2 linked regions of the Homo sapiens genome follow. The protein of the gene in region 1 interacts with the protein of each later gene in a biochemical or structural test. Each region holds a gene or a part of one and is shown in the gene's direction. Other genes may lie near its edges.

What was found. The genes of interacting proteins can lie anywhere in the genome.
Region 2: the proteins of IL16 (region 1) and RPS6KA1 interact in a test that uses a peptide from one of them, tested with the Homo sapiens proteins (one large-scale study listed by IntAct).

The regions. Positions count from the first base shown.
Region 1 is NC_000015.10:81,297,024-81,302,103, forward strand, and holds part of IL16 (pro-interleukin-16), read left to right. Parts: coding exon 1-55; intron 56-2,280; coding exon of another isoform or gene 2,281-2,324; exon of another isoform or gene 2,325-2,356; coding exon 2,357-3,452; intron 3,453-4,320; coding exon 4,321-4,489; intron 4,490-5,080. UniProt on the Homo sapiens protein: Interleukin-16 stimulates a migratory response in CD4+ lymphocytes, monocytes, and eosinophils. Primes CD4+ T-cells for IL-2 and IL-15 responsiveness. Also induces T-lymphocyte expression of interleukin 2 receptor. Ligand for CD4.
Region 2 is NC_000001.11:26,557,261-26,561,549, forward strand, and holds part of RPS6KA1 (ribosomal protein S6 kinase alpha-1), read left to right. Parts: intron 1-1,546; coding exon 1,547-1,677; intron 1,678-3,465; coding exon 3,466-3,591; intron 3,592-3,784; coding exon 3,785-3,874; intron 3,875-4,244; coding exon 4,245-4,289. UniProt on the Homo sapiens protein: Serine/threonine-protein kinase that acts downstream of ERK (MAPK1/ERK2 and MAPK3/ERK1) signaling and mediates mitogenic and stress-induced activation of the transcription factors CREB1, ETV1/ER81 and NR4A1/NUR77, regulates translation through RPS6 and EIF4B phosphorylation, and mediates cellular proliferation, survival, and differentiation by modulating mTOR signaling and repressing pro-apoptotic function of BAD and DAPK1.

The DNA.
Region 1 (5,080 bases):
CCACAGACCAAGTCCTCCACAGAGGGCGAGCCAGGGTGGAGAAGAGCCAGCCCAGGTAAGCTTTCATTGAGATCTTCCAAAAGGAAGGGTCTTTTGAAAAAAGGTGCAGGGATAAGATAAGAGCACAAATTGGCCTGAGGATCAGAGTGCTCTGCATTGACATCACCACTGGACCTGGCTGATCAACAGTCAAGGGTTCCAGGTGCTGGGCAGCAGCACCGTGGAGGTGCTGTCCAGGGTGGGGAGCCTCCTGGGTGGACGGGTGATGCTGTGGGGGTGGCAGCAGGAATGCAGGCCATTCTGGATAATTGGGAGGATGGAGCCCTTGGAAGAGGTCCAAAGACACACCCACCCAGCCATCCTGGGCAGCTACCTCTAGGGTGCCAACATTCCAGTTGCAACAGTCCTGCTGCATTCAGGATTTCTGAGTCAGAGAATGCAACGCCAGAAAAGTATAAATAGCATCTACCAGTGGTCACCTCCTCCATGAGGTGGATAGCAAGGGTGTGTCCACATGGTACACCTGACAATGCTAAGACATGACTTGAATATTTATTTGCTTGCTAGAGAGAGCATAGGACTTGAAGTCAGGGAATCCTGGATCTGTCTGTCATTAGTATGATTCTGAGCAACCTACTTTGCCTTTCTGAGCCCAGATTCACTCATCAGCAATGTGTGGAAGAGCACGTAGACCCCAAGCATATGATGCATTCAGCAAGCACACATTGAATGCTGGCTTCGTGAGGCCCTGTGCTAGATGCTGGGGGGAGAGAGAGAAAGGGATGAGACCAGGTAGTCAGGTCCTGCCTCCAAGGAGCAACTAGTAGTGGCAGGAAATAAACATATAGACTATAAAACATATGACTGTTTGAGTAACACTACAGAAAAGCTCATGAAAGACTTTTGGAGGGCTAAGGGACATTTTGGAAAGATCTAGCACATCTCACCCAGAGCAGAGGCCCTGTGGGTGGAGGCTCCTCTCCCTTAGTCACCCTAATTGAGGAACATTCTAGCAAAAGCAAACGCCTCAGTGTTTAACTGACAGGAGGTTGTCACTCCAATCTGCAAAGGGCTTGCCTGTGGAACCTCTGCCTCCTGATTCTCACAACAGCACCTTACAGCCAAGCCATTCAAAAATGCAGAAACAGGCTGGAGGCCTGGGCTCACTTGCCCAAGGCCAGTCTCTTAGATTGTGCAGAATTTCTCTTTGATATCATCAAGGTGTAATGCTCCATGATTCACTTCTTTTGAAACCTGGCATTGAGACAAGGGACAGGAGGGATCAGAGTTCCTTCAACTGGGTTGCGTTCCAGTAGCAAGCATCCCCCAAGGCACACAGGCCAGCCTCCCTCTGCCCCTGGGAAAGAGAGCCAGGACACCCTCTCCCTTACCCATGCAGATATGATGCTGGTTCAATGCTGGCTTCTGAGAAAGACTCCTATGTGCTCCAGGGCATGCCTGAGGTCCTGGCTGGCACAGAGCAGGTTGCACATTGCAATCCCCTGCTCATCACATTCCCAACACCCAGGCTGCATCCCAGGTATCTTCAGTCAGTACCTAGGGGTGGGCGTCAGTATTTTTCAGGGCCCTCCAGATTCCAGTATGTAGCCAAGGTGGAGAATCCTACTTCACAGATTCCTTTCTACCTGGAACCTTTTCATCAGCTTTTGAGGGAGGGAAAACACTCCTTTGCCGAGAGCAAGCTGATCAATGACCTGTGTATAGGCAGAGCAGCAAACACACGGCTTCAGGGCCAGGCAGGTACATACATGGGAAATGCTGGCTGGGTGAGAGGGAGCGTGAAGAGCTGTGGGAAGCCGAAGTGGCCCCATCAGAAGCTGTGCACAGGCACCTTGTTTTTAATGACACGGGTAGGTCAAAGCACAAACAGCTGCCAACTCATGACCTTTGTCTTAAAAGTTTAAACGGCAGGAGAACTGCTTTGGCTTTTACACATTTAACATGGTATCTTGGAGGCTCCTTAGTGCAGTAGAAAGGACATGAACTTCAAGAGTCAGGAGACACAGGGTCTTGCCTGAGCACTGCCATCAGATGGCCCCTTACCCTTCTTGAAATGTAATATGCCAGAGGTCGGCCCAGATATTCTCTGAGCACCCTTCCAGGCCTAAAACACTAGGATACTGTGAGATTAACTCCTACTTCTGGTCCTTCACTCCTGCCTGTTGGCAGCTCAGTCAGGTAATAGCACCTGGAGTTCACCCACCTGGGTGTCCCCCACTTCTGCTAATCTCCTCCTCTTGAATCCTTCTTGCTGTTCAGCTTGGAAACTAGAATTTAGGAAGAAAAGTCACTGTATGATGTAATGCACAGCTTTGGCCTTGTTTCTGCACTGTAGTGACCCAAACATCCCCGATAAAACACCCACTGCTTAAGAGGCAGGCTCGGATGGACTATAGCTTTGATACCACAGCCGAAGACCCTTGGGTTAGGATTTCTGACTGCATCAAAAACTTATTTAGCCCCATCATGAGTGAGAACCATGGCCACATGCCTCTACAGCCCAATGCCAGCCTGAATGAAGAAGAAGGGACACAGGGCCACCCAGATGGGACCCCACCAAAGCTGGACACCGCCAATGGCACTCCCAAAGTTTACAAGTCAGCAGACAGCAGCACTGTGAAGAAAGGTCCTCCTGTGGCTCCCAAGCCAGCCTGGTTTCGCCAAAGCTTGAAAGGTTTGAGGAATCGTGCTTCAGACCCAAGAGGGCTCCCTGATCCTGCCTTGTCCACCCAGCCAGCACCTGCTTCCAGGGAGCACCTAGGATCACACATCCGGGCCTCCTCCTCCTCCTCCTCCATCAGGCAGAGAATCAGCTCCTTTGAAACCTTTGGCTCCTCTCAACTGCCTGACAAAGGAGCCCAGAGACTGAGCCTCCAGCCCTCCTCTGGGGAGGCAGCAAAACCTCTTGGGAAGCATGAGGAAGGACGGTTTTCTGGACTCTTGGGGCGAGGGGCTGCACCCACTCTTGTGCCCCAGCAGCCTGAGCAAGTACTGTCCTCGGGGTCCCCTGCAGCCTCCGAGGCCAGAGACCCAGGTGTGTCTGAGTCCCCTCCCCCAGGGCGGCAGCCCAATCAGAAAACTCTCCCCCCTGGCCCGGACCCGCTCCTAAGGCTGCTGTCAACACAGGCTGAGGAATCTCAAGGCCCAGTGCTCAAGATGCCTAGCCAGCGAGCACGGAGCTTCCCCCTGACCAGGTCCCAGTCCTGTGAGACGAAGCTACTTGACGAAAAGACCAGCAAACTCTATTCTATCAGCAGCCAAGTGTCATCGGCTGTCATGAAATCCTTGCTGTGCCTTCCATCTTCTATCTCCTGTGCCCAGACTCCCTGCATCCCCAAGGAAGGGGCATCTCCAACATCATCATCCAACGAAGACTCAGCTGCAAATGGTTCTGCTGAAACATCTGCCTTGGACACAGGGTTCTCGCTCAAGTGAGTTTCTACACCCGGTGTTTCTCTTTACCTTTCTCATCTTTTTCTTTCTCATCTTTATTTTTAAAAATAATCCTATATATAATTTAAAAAATTCCCAGATATATTGATTAAAGAATTGTTCTGCCTCTTTCTTTCCATGTGTGTGCAGATGTCTGAGTGTGTGTGTGTCTGTCTGTAGGTATTACACCTCTGCCTTTCACATTAAGGAGGAGTTTTCACAACATCTGGCTTCAGGAGGGCTGGGAGGTAGGAGGTGGGACTGGCTCCCTGGTGAATTGCTCATGAGGGCTGACATACGCCTGTGGAGATTTGGAAGGTTGATGCACATCTGAAATGTCCTGCGGTTACTCAGAAAGACCAGAATGAGGCCAGGAAATTATCCATCAGGAATTCTTACTCTCCAAATGGAATCCACTTGTACTCTGCACGTGGGTTCAACTCCCTCGTCAGGGAGTTAGGATGTCTGGGTCCTAGTCTCAGCTTAGGCACTGATTCTGACTATGAGCAGGTTCTTTCCATGCTCACCCTCAGATTCCTTGTCAGTTGAAATTAGGAGATGGATGAGACCTTCTATGCAGAACCAAGAGGATGTCAGACGTGCCATAGGGTCCCTGCTGTAGGGCTGGGGCTTGGTCTTCCCTCTGATCAAAGTAGCTCTGCATTTATTAGTTTTATTTATTATTCTTACACTGCTGGGAAATATCTGTAGAGTGAAGGTATGCTAGTATCTACTCATAGATTTGTTGCATCAAATAATATGCACATAAGTGCTTGGCACCACACCTGGGACATAGTAATTATACAATCACTGTTACCTCTTTTTAATATTGTTGTTCATACTGTGTGTTGTTTCTCCTTATGAAAGCCTTTCAGAGCTGAGAGAATATACAGAGGGTCTCACGGAAGCCAAGGAAGACGATGATGGGGACCACAGTTCCCTTCAGTCTGGTCAGTCCGTTATCTCCCTGCTGAGCTCAGAAGAATTAAAAAAACTCATCGAGGAGGTGAAGGTTCTGGATGAAGCAACATTAAAGGTAGGTTTCCTTTGTAAGCATCTGCAGTAACCAATGGCTTATTATGGCTGTGTGGCCACCTTAGTTGGGCCAGAGGGGAAGTAGCTTGAGTAGCCTGCTCACATCAGACCCAGGTTGCGTCCTGTGATGGTGGGACACTGTAGCACTTGACCACAGTAAGACCTTCCATTTGAAGAGAGCCTTTTAGCTTGTGAACCACTTTCAGTAGATTGACTTCTTGCATCTTCTTTTGTCATTTTATAAATGAGAAAGGTAAGGCTCAATCAAGGTTACAGAACCTGGGTTTTCTGTCTCCAAGTTCAAGTTCAGTGCTGTTTCCACATTCCATGTGCTGCTGTCCTGGCATGTGTCTGTTGTGGGATGCTGTCCATTGTAAACAATGTGGGTTACAAGAGCTCTCACCTGGAGCTTTCATTATTTCCACTGTGCATGGAGAGGTGGCTGATCCCAGGGCTCACAAGTCCCCCACGCTTCAGTCAAGTCATTCTGAAAGTCTCACTTCCCATATGTTTTCTGAGCATGACCCAAAGGGGTGTGGGGAGGAAGTGGCCAGGCTGAGCTGGGGCCAGCAGTCAAATGAGCTCAGGCTCA
Region 2 (4,289 bases), on another chromosome or scaffold:
CTGTCTCACTCCGCCCGACTCTCTCACTATGGGGCTCTGTGGGTCTCTTTGTGTCTGGTGAGAGAGTGGGAGTGGGGATGTGTGGGTGGTGAAGGCCACAGTAGAAAAGCCAGGACCCCTGCCCGGGGCACCTTCCAGCCCACTGGGAAGACCAAACACATCAGGCTTACCATCACGTCAGGGAGAAAGAATCTGACCCAGCCACACTGTGTGGTGGCTGAGCAGAGGTGACAGTGCCCATAGGTCAGGGACAGGCATGGGAATCAGCTTTGGCTGCCCTGACTGCCCGGCCTCCGTGTACTTATCTGGAACAAGGGCACAGCCACAAACCCACTCATTCCCTGGGGTTGCTACAAGAAGCCAGTGAGGGAGCTTCTGGGAAGGAACCTGGTGAATCCTAACTTTTTGGCCAGATATTGACAGTGGGTGTGGGGTGGAATGTTCTGGGAAACCTCCTATAAGGGCATGTTTTAGGAGAGGGTGTGCTTTTCTTCTCTCCTCTCCTCCCCTCCCCTCTCCTCCCCTCCCCTCCCCTCCCCTCCCCTCCCCTTCCCTCTCCTTCCCTTCCCTCTCCTCTCCTCTTTTCAAGATGGAGTCTCGCTCTGTTGCCCAGGCTGGAATGCAATGGCGTGATCTCAGCTTACTGCAACCTCCACCTCCTGGGTTCAAGAGATTCTCCTGCCTCAGCCTCCCGAGTAGCTGGGATTACAGGCATGTGTCAGCACGCCTGGCTAATTTTTGTATTTTTAGTAGAGACGGGGTTTCACCATGTTGGCCAGGCTGGTCTCGAACTCCTGACCTCAGGTGATCCACAAGGGGGTGCTTTTCTCACTGCACTTGCACGCCTCTGATGACAGAGACAGCACTTCTCCAAGCAGTCCGCTGGGCAACGTGACAAGTGCAGCTTCGTAGGAGTCAGGGGCCGGAGGAGCAGCATCAGGCAAGGCTTCTCAGAGGAGGGAGCGTGCGAGTTGAGTCTTGAAGGATAGGCAAGGAGTGGATTATCTAGTTAAAGGGAACAGTGTGTGCAAGGGCTCAGAGACCCCTCTAAGGATCTGAGAAGTCCAACATGGCTCAGCTGTGGTATGGAGAGAGAGGAGGTGAGGATCACAGGGCCCTCAATTGCCAGACTCAGGAGCTGGACTTACTCCTGAAGGCAGACGGGAACCTTTGAAAGGTGTGGGCAGGGTGGCAGATTTGTGGTTGGAACCTTCCCTCTGGCTGCTGTGCAGAGATGGACCTGAAGGGGCTGACGTAAGATGGGGAAGCTGGGGAGGAAGCATCCAGGAAGGGATGAACTGTCTTGGCCTGGGATGGAGGTGGATGTGAGAGTCTTTTTTGTTCCTCATGCGACAGGACTGGGCTGGTCTAATAAACACATATGAGCAGTTGGGCCAAGGCCTGTGATGGACAGGCCCTCTGCAGGCTCCCGCCACGGCCAGCCCCTGAGGCAGGTCTGGAGGCCCTGTGCTCCCCCTTTGCTGGGCTGCCTCAGGGTCGAGGGGACCTCCTCAGGTACCCTCACATTCTCCTTCCATCCGTACAGATTCCCCAGGCATCCCCCCCAGCGCTGGGGCCCATCAGCTGTTCCGGGGCTTCAGCTTCGTGGCCACCGGCCTGATGGAAGACGACGGCAAGCCTCGTGCCCCGCAGGCACCCCTGCACTCGGTGGTACAGGTGAGGGGGGCAGGGGGCTGCTGCTCCATTATCCTTTTCTAAAGAATGGCTGAGTACACAGGCTCTGAGTTGGACAGAACCAGGTTCATACCCTCATGCCACTGTGGGACCAGTAGGGCCTCCAACATAAAACAGGGACAGTAAGGCCCACCTCACACAGTGGCCCTGATAATTGGATGATGATATGGGTGTACATTTCCCAGCACAGAGCCAGGGTCTGGGTACATGTCAGGAGGTGCCCAGGGTGGTGGTGCCGAGTGACTGTCGTGTCTCCGGCATAAGTGTAGCGAAGGACTTGGATCTCATCACACTTGTTCCCCATTTGTACACTTCTACTGCTAATGAAAGTTTCAGGTTGAGAGGCAAGAATGTAGACTGTGGAGCTCATTGCATGGGTTCCAGATTCACAAGATAATGGACTTTGGGGTTTTTTGTTTGTTTGTTTTTGAGACGTAGTCTTGCTCTGTTGCCCAGGCTGGAGTGCAGTGGCACAATCTCAGCTCACTACAGCCTCCACCTCCCAGGTTCAAAAAATTCTCCTGCCTCAGTCTCCCGAATAGCTGGGACTACAGATATACACCACCACACCCAGCTAATTTTTTTTTTTTTTTTTTGTATTTTTAGTAGAGACGGGGTTTTACCATGTTGGCTAGGCTGGTGTCAAACTCCTGACCTCAAGTGATCCGCCCACCTCAGCCTCCCAAGGTGCTGAGATTACAGACATGAGCACCTGACCAGATAATGGACTTTGGATGAGATACTCCCTTCCTCGTGCCTCAGTTTCCTCATCTGTAAATGGGGGAAATGATAGAAGCTTCCTCCATAGAGCTGTTATGAGGATTATTAGAGTTAATACATGTAAAGTTCATGTGGGCTGGGCACGGTGGCTCATGCCTGTAATCCCAGCACTTTGGGAGGCCAAGAAGGGTGGATTGCTTGAGGCCAGGAATTTAAACAGACCCATCTGGCCAACATGGCGAAACCCCGTCTCTAAAAATACAAAAATCAGCTGGGCGTGTTGGCGCGTGCCTATAGTCCCAGCTACTTGGGAGGCAGAGGTTGCAGTGAGCTGAGAACGTACCACTGCACTCCAGCCTGGGCAACAGCGTAAGACTCTGTCTCAAAAAATAAATAAATAAAATAAAAAATAAAGTTAAGGTGACTATGTAATTTATTTTCCAAACTGGGACATCTTAGTCCAGGACAAATATTAAATCAGACTGGATGCAAGGACCGCATGCGCAAGCCAGGGCTGGCCGTGGGGCATGCAGTCACCTGATGAAAGTGCTTAGAATAGTGCCTGGCACACAGCACACACTAAGCACCATTCAGCATTGCTACGGCTAATGTCCCAGAACCTTGAGACACCCCATGAGTTGAGCTGTGACACCCCAGAAAGGGAGGCAGGCCACTCAAAGCCGTACTTAGTGGCACAGCTGGAACTCAGCTCAGGGCTCCTGCGTCCCTCCCAGGCCTGCCCAGACTTTTCAGAACTAAAGTCCTCTCCATGTGTGTTGTGACCCTGTTTCCCACTCCCTACACTGCCCTCTGACCACAGGCTGCAGTCCAGGCAGGCTGGGAGCCAGTGAGTATGCCCATTATATAGAGTAGAAAACTGAGGCCCAGAGAGGGGCAGGCTGTCACCTGCGGTCACATGGCCAACACTCTACCCCAAGTCTCCTGGCCCTTCCCTGGTGCTGTCTCTACTGAGCCAAGACCTTAGGTCCTGGGGGATGACCCCTAGCACTCTAGAGCCAGGGGTCAGCCACAATTTTTGGTCTCCTACAGCAACTCCATGGGAAGAACCTGGTTTTTAGTGACGGCTACGTGGTAAAGGAGACAATTGGTGTGGGCTCCTACTCTGAGTGCAAGCGCTGTGTCCACAAGGCCACCAACATGGAGTATGCTGTCAAGGTGGGCCTCCTGACCACGTCTCGGCCAAGGCTGCTGGGTTGGGGGCAGGTCCCCGTCTGGTGGGGAGGGATGGTGCCTGAGCTCTGCAGATGTATGAAAGGTGTGTGGCCGAGACCTCCTGGCCTGCTCCATGGCCAGAAAGGACCCTGGACCCTGTCACCCTGACACTGCCACATGCACCCCCTTTCTTCAGGTCATTGATAAGAGCAAGCGGGATCCTTCAGAAGAGATTGAGATTCTTCTGCGGTATGGCCAGCACCCCAACATCATCACTCTGAAAGATGTGAGTGGGGGTCCTTAAGACTGGGGTGGGGACCAGGAACTCAACTCTCAGGATTTGTCTCAGGATTGCCATTCCTTTGACTTCTCATCCTCTTTCCAGTGGTCATGTGGAGGGGAAGGAGGTCCCTTGGTCCCTTCAGTCTGCCCATACCCCAAGGGCCCTCCTTCAGACTCAGACATTTTCTGAGGACCTTCTTGCGTATCAGGAGACCAGTGTCAGCATCCTCCTTTTGGGGAAGGCAGGACCACTGAAGAGCAAGCAGAACACCTGCCCAAGGCTCATGTCATTCTTCCCTGCTCTGGGGCGCTGCTGACCAGGGGGCTCAGGCCTGACACTGGGGAGAAGAGCCTGATGGTGAGGTCTTCGGCAGGTGTATGATGATGGCAAACACGTGTACCTGGTGACAGAGCTGATG